Homo sapiens: one gene and its partner. The protein of the gene in region 1 interacts with the protein of each later gene in a biochemical or structural test. Each region holds a gene or a part of one and is shown on either strand. Other genes may lie near its edges. The genes, in order: GPC2 and PTPRS.

What was found.
Region 2: the proteins of GPC2 (region 1) and PTPRS form a complex in vitro, tested with the Homo sapiens proteins (one study listed by BioGRID).

What each region holds. Positions count from the first base shown.
Region 1 is NC_000007.14:100,170,539-100,174,446, forward strand, and holds part of GPC2 (glypican-2 precursor), read right to left. Parts: intron 3,460-3,908; coding exon 3,297-3,459; intron 1,680-3,296; coding exon 1,549-1,679; intron 1,388-1,548; coding exon 1,241-1,387; intron 1,141-1,240; coding exon 1,001-1,140; intron 899-1,000; coding exon 723-898; intron 1-722. UniProt on the Homo sapiens protein: Cell surface proteoglycan that bears heparan sulfate. May fulfill a function related to the motile behaviors of developing neurons.
Region 2 is NC_000019.10:5,333,922-5,337,829, reverse strand, and holds part of PTPRS (receptor-type tyrosine-protein phosphatase S isoform 1 precursor), read left to right. Parts: exon of another isoform or gene 1-373; intron 374-490; exon of another isoform or gene 491-582; intron 583-874; exon of another isoform or gene 875-968; intron 969-1,055; exon of another isoform or gene 1,056-1,142; intron 1,143-1,266; exon of another isoform or gene 1,267-1,335; intron 1,336-3,908. UniProt on the Homo sapiens protein: Cell surface receptor that binds to glycosaminoglycans, including chondroitin sulfate proteoglycans and heparan sulfate proteoglycan.

The DNA of each region.
Region 1 (3,908 bases):
AGGGAGGAAAAGAAATTGAGATAAAAACAGAAAGAGAGAGGAAAGGGAGGGAGACACAGGTGGATGCCGGGTTGGGGAAGGGAGAAAGACCATGAGTGACAGGAAGGCAGGGAGAGAAGGAAGGAGAGAGATCCGACAGCAGACATGGGGGGAGAGATCATGATGGGAGACAGTGAGACAGAGAGAAAAAAAAACAAAACAGGCAGATGGGGAGAGAGGATAACAGGAAAAAACAGAAAAATCAGAAGTACACAGAAGCAGAAAGCAGCCAGGAAGAGGGGTGCGGGAAGAGTGACAAAGAGAGACAGAGACAGACAGATAGAAGGAGAGAAGAAAACAATGAGTGTCTGTGCCTTGCTTCTCTGTTTGGCAAACTCCACCCTGCGGAGCCAGCTCAATGTCACCCACCACCCTGGCTTCCCAGCCTCCCCCAAATTGCCCCCTCCCCCATTTTCCCACTGCCCTTTGCCCATTATAAGGGGCTTCCCACTGTTCTTTAAGAATGTTTTCGTGTCTCCCCTACTGGCCTGAAAGGATACAGACCCCCTCATTGATCTGTTACCCCCAGTCTTTCAGGGCAACGCTCAATAAATGCTCGTTGAATGAATTAGTGAATTAATCAATGAACGCTAAGAGCAGAGGCACGGGCGGGAACTACCAGGAGAGGGGAGAGGCTTCAGGGCAGTGGGCGGGGCTCAGGCTCAGGGATGCAGGGGTCTCACCCGCGTCCTGCCCGTCCAGGTCGTGTCCCAGTGCGGCCGTTTTCATTCTGGCCGTGGCCGCCCGGAGCTGTAGCCGACGCCGCCGTGTCGGGACATCGGGGCCCGAGGCGTCCACCTTGAGCTCGGGGTTGTTGACCTGCTCGGCCGGGGAGCCCCCGACCACTGGCGGCAAGTACCTGCGAGCAGAGCAGCCCCGAAGCGCCAGCTAGCGCGCGCGGCCCCGCCCCTCCCGGCCGCGGTCCCGCCCCCTGCTGCCCCCCGACGCCCCCGAGGCTCACCGGCCCCGCCCGGCTCCGGTCCAGCAGGGCGCCGCCTCCAGCGAGGCGTCCGCTGCCATGCGAGAGTCTCCGCACACCGTCAGGGACAGCCGGGCCCAGAAGCCCCGCATCCGGGCCAGACGCTCGCGGAGCTCCCACACCTGGGCGGGCGAGAGGGGGCGGGGCGAGCTGGAGCGCGACCCCCACAACCATCCCCGGCCCCGGGCCCCCCCGCCCCCAACTCTTGGTCATCCCACGCACCAGCCGGTGCAGGTTGGTGCCTGCGGCCGTCGTGGGCCGCTCCTCCTCGGTCACCATCGACCACAGCCGGCCCGCCTCTTCCCGGGGCGGCGGGGCTCGACGGTTGCGGGCAGGCACCGGGTCGGGGGGGCCGCACTCCTGAAACACCTGCGGCACCGGGAAGAGACCTCACACAGTCACCCTGGGGGGAAACCACACTGCGTCCCCACTCTGACCCCAGAGTCTCTTCCCAGATCCCCTATACTGCCTCTCTGACACCCACACCGTCCCCGCCCCGGGCCTCACCTCCACCCTTCTCTCCCCTGTACCTGGGCGGACACCTTCGCACTGTTTTCCTGCAGGTACATCAAACCCTCCGAGATCTTCACCCCAATGGACTCGGCCGTCAGCTCAAAGGAAAAGGGGCCCTGGAGCTTATCAGCCAGGATCAGGAGACCATCTTAAGGGAGGGAGAGAAAGAGAAAGGATGGGATGAGTGGTGATACTGAACTAGGATGTTCCTGAAAATCCTCACTCGGGCCTTAGAGAAGCAGCAAAGTGTTTGGGGGAAACTCACATGAGCTCCCTCTCATGTATCCCCCCAATTTGGCTTTAAAGCCCCTCTCCATTTCACCCCCAGCCTTACTCAGGACCCTCCTCCATCCCAGACTTTTTTAAAATTTAAATTTAAATTTTAGGATTTTAGGATTTTTTTTTTTTTTGAGACATAGTCTCACTCTGTCGCCCAGGCTGGATGGAGTGCAGTGGCGCGATCTCGGGTCACTGCAACCTCTGCCTCCTGGGTTCAAGCGATTCTTCTGCCTCAGCCTCCGGAGTAGCTGAGACTACAGGCGCCTGCCACCATGCCGGCTAATTTTTGTATATATATATATGTGTGTGTGTATATATATATATGTGTGTGTGTGTGTATATATATATACGTGTATATATATGTATATATACACGTATATATATGTGTATATATATGTGTGTATATATATGTGTGTATATATATATGTGTGTGTATATATATACGTATATATATGTGTGTATATATATACGTGTATATATATATATTTTTTTCCGGTAGAGAAGGGGTTTCACCATATTGGCCAAGCTGGTCTTTGTCTCAAAAAAAAAAGAGTCTCATCTGTCACCCAGGCTGGAGTGCAATGGCATGATCTTGGCTCACTGCAATCTCTGCCTCCCGGGTTCAAGTGATTCTTCTGCCTCAGCGTCCCAAGTAGCTGGGACTACAGGTGCATGCCACCACGCCTGGCTAATTTTTGTATTTTTAGTAGAGATGGGGTTTCACCATGTTAGCCAGGCTGGTCTCGAACTCCTGACCTCTTGATCCACCCACCTCGGCCTCCCAAAGTGCTGGGATTACAGGCATGAGCCATCATGCCCAGCCGGCCAAGCTGGTCTTGAACTCCTGACCTGTCCTTGTGATCCGCCTGCCTCCGCCTCCCAAAGTGCTAGGATTACAAGCGTGAGCCACCGTGCCTGGCCAATTTTAGGATTTTTTTAGACAGGGTCTTACTCTCTCGCCCAGGTTGGAGTATAGTGGCATCATCATAGCTTACTGCAGCCTCTAACTCCTGGGATCAAGGGAGCCTCCTGCCTCAGCCTCTGGAGTAACTGGGACAACAGGCATGTGTGCCACCATGCCTGATAATTTCTTTCTTTTTTTTTTTTTTGGTAGAGATGCGGTCTAGCTACGTTGCCCAGGCTGGCCTCCAACTCCTGGCCTCAAGTGATCCTCCTGCCTCAGCCTCAGGAGTAACTGGGACTACAGGCGCGGGCGCTACCATGCCTGGCTGATTTCTTTCTTTTCTTTCTTTCTTTCTTTCTTTTTCTTTCTTTCCTTCCTTCTTTCCTTCTTTCTTTCTCTGTCTCTCTCTCTCTCTTTCTTTCTCTCTCTCTCTTTCTTTCTTGAGATGACGTCTAGCTATGTTGCCCCAGCTGGGCTCCAACTCCTGGCCTCAAGTGATCCTCCTGCCTCAGCCTCTCAAAGTGCTGTGATTACAGGTGTGAGCCACCATGCCTGGCTCCAGGCTTTCTTGAATCCCCTCACCCAGATAGTTGCCCCAGTCAGGCTCCAGTCCCCTGCTGCTGAGACAGCCACGAACCACGTTGAGGCAGAAGCCCTGGCAGGGCATAAGTGAGGGGACCCCCCGGCACAGGGGACAGCCGATGAGACGCATCAGAGCCTGGCTGCAGCCTTCAGACACCGGCACCTGGGGGCAGAGAGTGGGGCTGTGTCCTCCACAAACGCTGTGGCTGCTCTCAGCCTGGCTTGGTGCTGGGCACAGACAGAAATCACATACCCCACCCTACACCTAGGGTTGGTGACCCCACGTGGCAGCAGGTGAGATTGTCACAGATCTGAGGAGGGAGGTTCCAGGTTGCTGACTCTGATTCGTGGGAGGGGTGGAAATAGAGAGGCAGTTAGGGGTGGAGGGAACATTCAAGGACAAGAGTGAGCCCATCACAGCTGGGGAGGGAGGAGGCGGTCAGGAGGCAGAAGGTGAGGCTGGGAGGTCAGGTAGAGGATGGGCAGTGAGAGAGGCCAAGCCAGGCATCTGGCCTTCAGCAGCAGGGAAGTGGAGTCATTGAGGGATCCTGGGGGGTTGGGCGGGGGCAGTATCCAATCTCCTACTGCTATGGAGATGAGCAGGCCCTTGGG
Region 2 (3,908 bases), on another chromosome or scaffold:
GTCCATGGACCCTGCTTGGAGACACAAGTCCATTTTCCCCCAATTTCCACCATGGAACAGGGGGAAGCTTCGTGGATGCCAGGGATTTCGTGGTAGCATCTGGGTGGGGAGACCTGGAGCCATCACTGTGCACCCATTTTTTTCTTCTTTGGGTCGCATAGAGCCTGGGGCTCTGCCTGGGTTTCCCCAGACCTGGTACCAGTCTGGAGGCAAATCTATCTCTGCTCATCAAACGTCTTTCTGGGAGGTGACTTGGTTTCCCCTTCTGCCTTCGGGGTTGGCGTTGAACAGCGGTTCACAGATGTCTGAGGGCAGCGCACACCTCCACTTGCCAAGATGGGGAGACCTGTGGCTTCGCTGATTATTCCAGCGGCTGCATGGCCCCAATACAATAGTTAGTGGGATGGCCGGAGAGGGACGGGCAGGGACGGTGTGACTTGGTGGTGCGACGTGGCATTTCTACCCGAGCGCCCCGTGGCCCCGCGTTCACCTGCTTTCTGTGACGGTGCAGCCGCCGTGTGCGTGGGGGAAGAAGCGGGGCGTGGAGAGAGTTCGGGATGGGGGCGAGCGGGAGGGAAAACCCTAAAAATAAAAAGGGATATTTATAAACCCAGCGGGTTTGGGGGATAATTGACAAAGCTTAATGTTTTTCGGCTGAGAGCAATTCCTTCCCCCTGCTACCCATTAAGCTCCATTTGCAGAGTCGGTCGGAGCCACGGGAAGATCTTGAGATGAGCTTTAGGTTTGGCGGGCGCAGTGCTGACCGCTGTAGCCCCCTTCTGGGAGGGTCTCGTACTTTCTGGAAGGAGACAGGGGTCCCAGAAAGGGGCACTCCCCAGCTCTCCTCTGCATCCAGGGTAGGCTCCTGGCTCACCTTCCAATGGGTGGGTGTCCTCTTAGAATTTGCAAGGAGGATGAGAACCCTTCTCGGGCAAAGCCTGTGCAGGTTGCCCTTCCTCCGTCCTTCCCTGCGGCAAAAGATGCCCAGGGAGGGGAATTTGAAGAGAGACCCTCCCCCCCACCACCCGCCGCCGCCCCACCCTCCAACCGCTCACCAGGCAGAGTGGCTCAGCCTCCGGTGGGGACAGGAGGAGAGGAGATTAAGACATAACTGCTGTTCCTCGCAGGATTCGTGTGGCAAGCTGATACAAAACAAAACAAAAAAACCAAAAATTCACCATGGATTCACGGACCAAGGCACGTATCCGGGGCTTGAAGGTTTCAAGGGCTTTTTAAACTGTGAATTTTGTCATTTTCACACCTTACCTTGCTCTGGAATCGGAAAGCTGCCAGCTTGTGGCTTGCGGGGCAGAGGAGAGGGGATGCTGGAAGGGGATTGAGGCTCAAATGCATGTCATCTTATCACCAGGTGACATTCTGAATTGAGGAAGGGGGACACGGAGAGAGGAAGTGAAGTGTAGGGGATGTGATCGAGGGAAAGGGTGGCTGTTGTCTCACGCAGAGAGTGGCAGCCCCAAAATGTCTAGGAAACAGGTGACACCTGGGTCTCTCTAACCCTGAGGTTCAAGAGTGTGGAGTGTGTGGTTTCCCCCCCGCCCCCCCCCCTTTTCCTTTAAGGAAAGAAAAGACTCTCAACCAAAAAGGGAAGAAAAAAAAAAACCCGACGTACCATTTCTGTCTTGTCTCTGGCTGATATTTGAGAAGCGCTGGGGAGGGGGTTGTGTGTGGGGAATTTGAAAAATCAATTGGCTTACACTTCTCCAAAGGCGAAAATTAACGGGTAGGAGTGATTCACGGACAGGCCCTCCACTTTCACATCGCTTTATTTTTGTCTCTCTCTTTTTTTTTTTTCCTCCTCCTCCTCCTCCATGGAGCTGCCGGTCCCCCAACATCGTGGCCTGGCCAGACTGGACCTTGGGGCTGGTGCTATTCTGGGCTAGCCGTGGAATCCCCTCTTCTGTTCCCCGGAATCAAGGCACCCTCTGCGCCCCGCAGAGGCCGAGGGGATATTCCACATCTGAAAATAAACCCAGGTTTCTGTGCGGCTTCCTGTTTCCTTCTGATTCCCGCGGATCCCACCCTGGTTGGGGGTTCAGAGCCTGGATTTTTGGATCATGGGGACTCCCTCCTCCGGTCCCCATCGCCGTAACTGGGGCTGGATCACAAATGTCCCGTTTCATGGGGACAGATTTCATCTCGTACTCTTTATGTTATCTGGGTGGCCTTGCTCCTTTTAAGTTGTTTTTGATCTTTGCCATAAGCCCCTTATAGGAAGGGCCAGCTGTCTCCTGTTCCCCCTACCTGGAGAACTGAAAATTCCCCTTTTTCTCCCAGATCTCACCTGCCTGCCTGCCTTCCTTCCTTCCTGGATGACTTCCCCTCTTCCCTTTCAGTTCTCCGTGCAGGAGCTTCCTCACTTACAGAATGAGGTTACCCCTCTGGGTTCCAGGTCAGAGCCCTGACTTGAGCCACCCTCCTCACTTGAGCTGTGCAAACTAGGGCGGGTTGCCTGACCTCTCTGTGTTCTCTCATCTCTAAGATCAGTACAGTCGCAGTCTGCGTCGCGGCGAGCCTTGACATGAGATGCTGTGGGTAAACATGCCTCCCCTGGCTCTCAACGCGTCCGCAGTCAGTCGCATGCATCCTTCCTTCCGCTCCTGGACACCCAGAGGGGTATCCGGCGGGCGGAGAAGCCATGGCTCTGGAAGCCTGGGACCCTCGGATGAGGCAGGCTGTGGGGAGAGAGGCTGGGAGGATGGCCCATCGTCGCGCTGTCACGTGGGTAATTGAGAGTTTGCGGAAATTCAGGGGTTCTGGGGAAGCGAGGTTGGCGCGTCTGTGTGTGTATAATTTAATGCCGCTTATAATTAACCCCCGTGATCAGCAAATGAGGGGATGTCGGGGGGATAATAACAGCTGCTCCGACTATTTAGAGTTGGCGCCCCGTGCCAGGCCCTCTGCTAAGTAAGCAAGTCAGTAGCATCCTTGTCTCCTCCAACCTGCCGTCCCCTGTCAGCGGAGTTGCTGTGATCTGAGCCCTATTTTGCAGAGAGGGAAACTGAGGCACAGGGAGGGGCCTTCACTGGCCTGAGGTCACTTCACACAGCCCACAAGCTGTTGGCTGCCACAACCTGGATTCCTAACGCCTGGAAGGAGCTCTGCCCGATTGTCAGGGATGTTTGTTTGGACAGCAGTCCATCTGCTGCGGGGGCCACCTGAATCGCTACAGAGACACCCCCCGCACACACACACCCCAGGGCTCTTGACTGCCTTTTCTCAGAGGTTAAGAGCAAGGATGCTGGACTGAGGCTGCATGGGGTTCAAATCCCGGCTCTGCCGACTTGTTGGCTGTGTGACCTGGGGCAAGTTGCTCAACCTCTCTGTGCTTCCGTCTTCCTCATCTGTCTATGGAGAAGAGTAACAGTGCCCACCTTGAGGGATTGTTAGGAGGAAGAAATGAGTTAACGTGTGTAAGCACAGATTCAGAACGGCACCTAGAATGTAGCTGCCACCTCTATTCTGTTTTTGTTATTATTTTTGACAACATGGGAGCTACACTGATATGTTGAAGGACCTGCCCAAGAGGGGCTCTCCAGTGTCCACCCGCGCCCCGCTACCCCGCCCTCAGCCCCCCGATGGGGTCCAGCACCAGGGAGATGTCAGGATGACTCAGCCACTGCAAACTGGGGCGTTCCCCTTCACTGGCTGCTTAATCAAGGCCGCCCCACTTCTGCGGCAGGACTGGGCGACTGGCGGGAGCTGAACCACAGGGGGCCTGGATGGTGGACAGGGAGGACACGTGGCTGCCTTGGGAGCTCCAGGCACTCCAGGGACTCCACATGTGGCTCCCAACTTCCAGAGCCCCTGGTGGGCCCGAGTGATCACCAAAGGGGGGAGTTTGGGGGGGATTTGGGGGTTTAACAGCAGTCATTTGATGGGCACTCAGG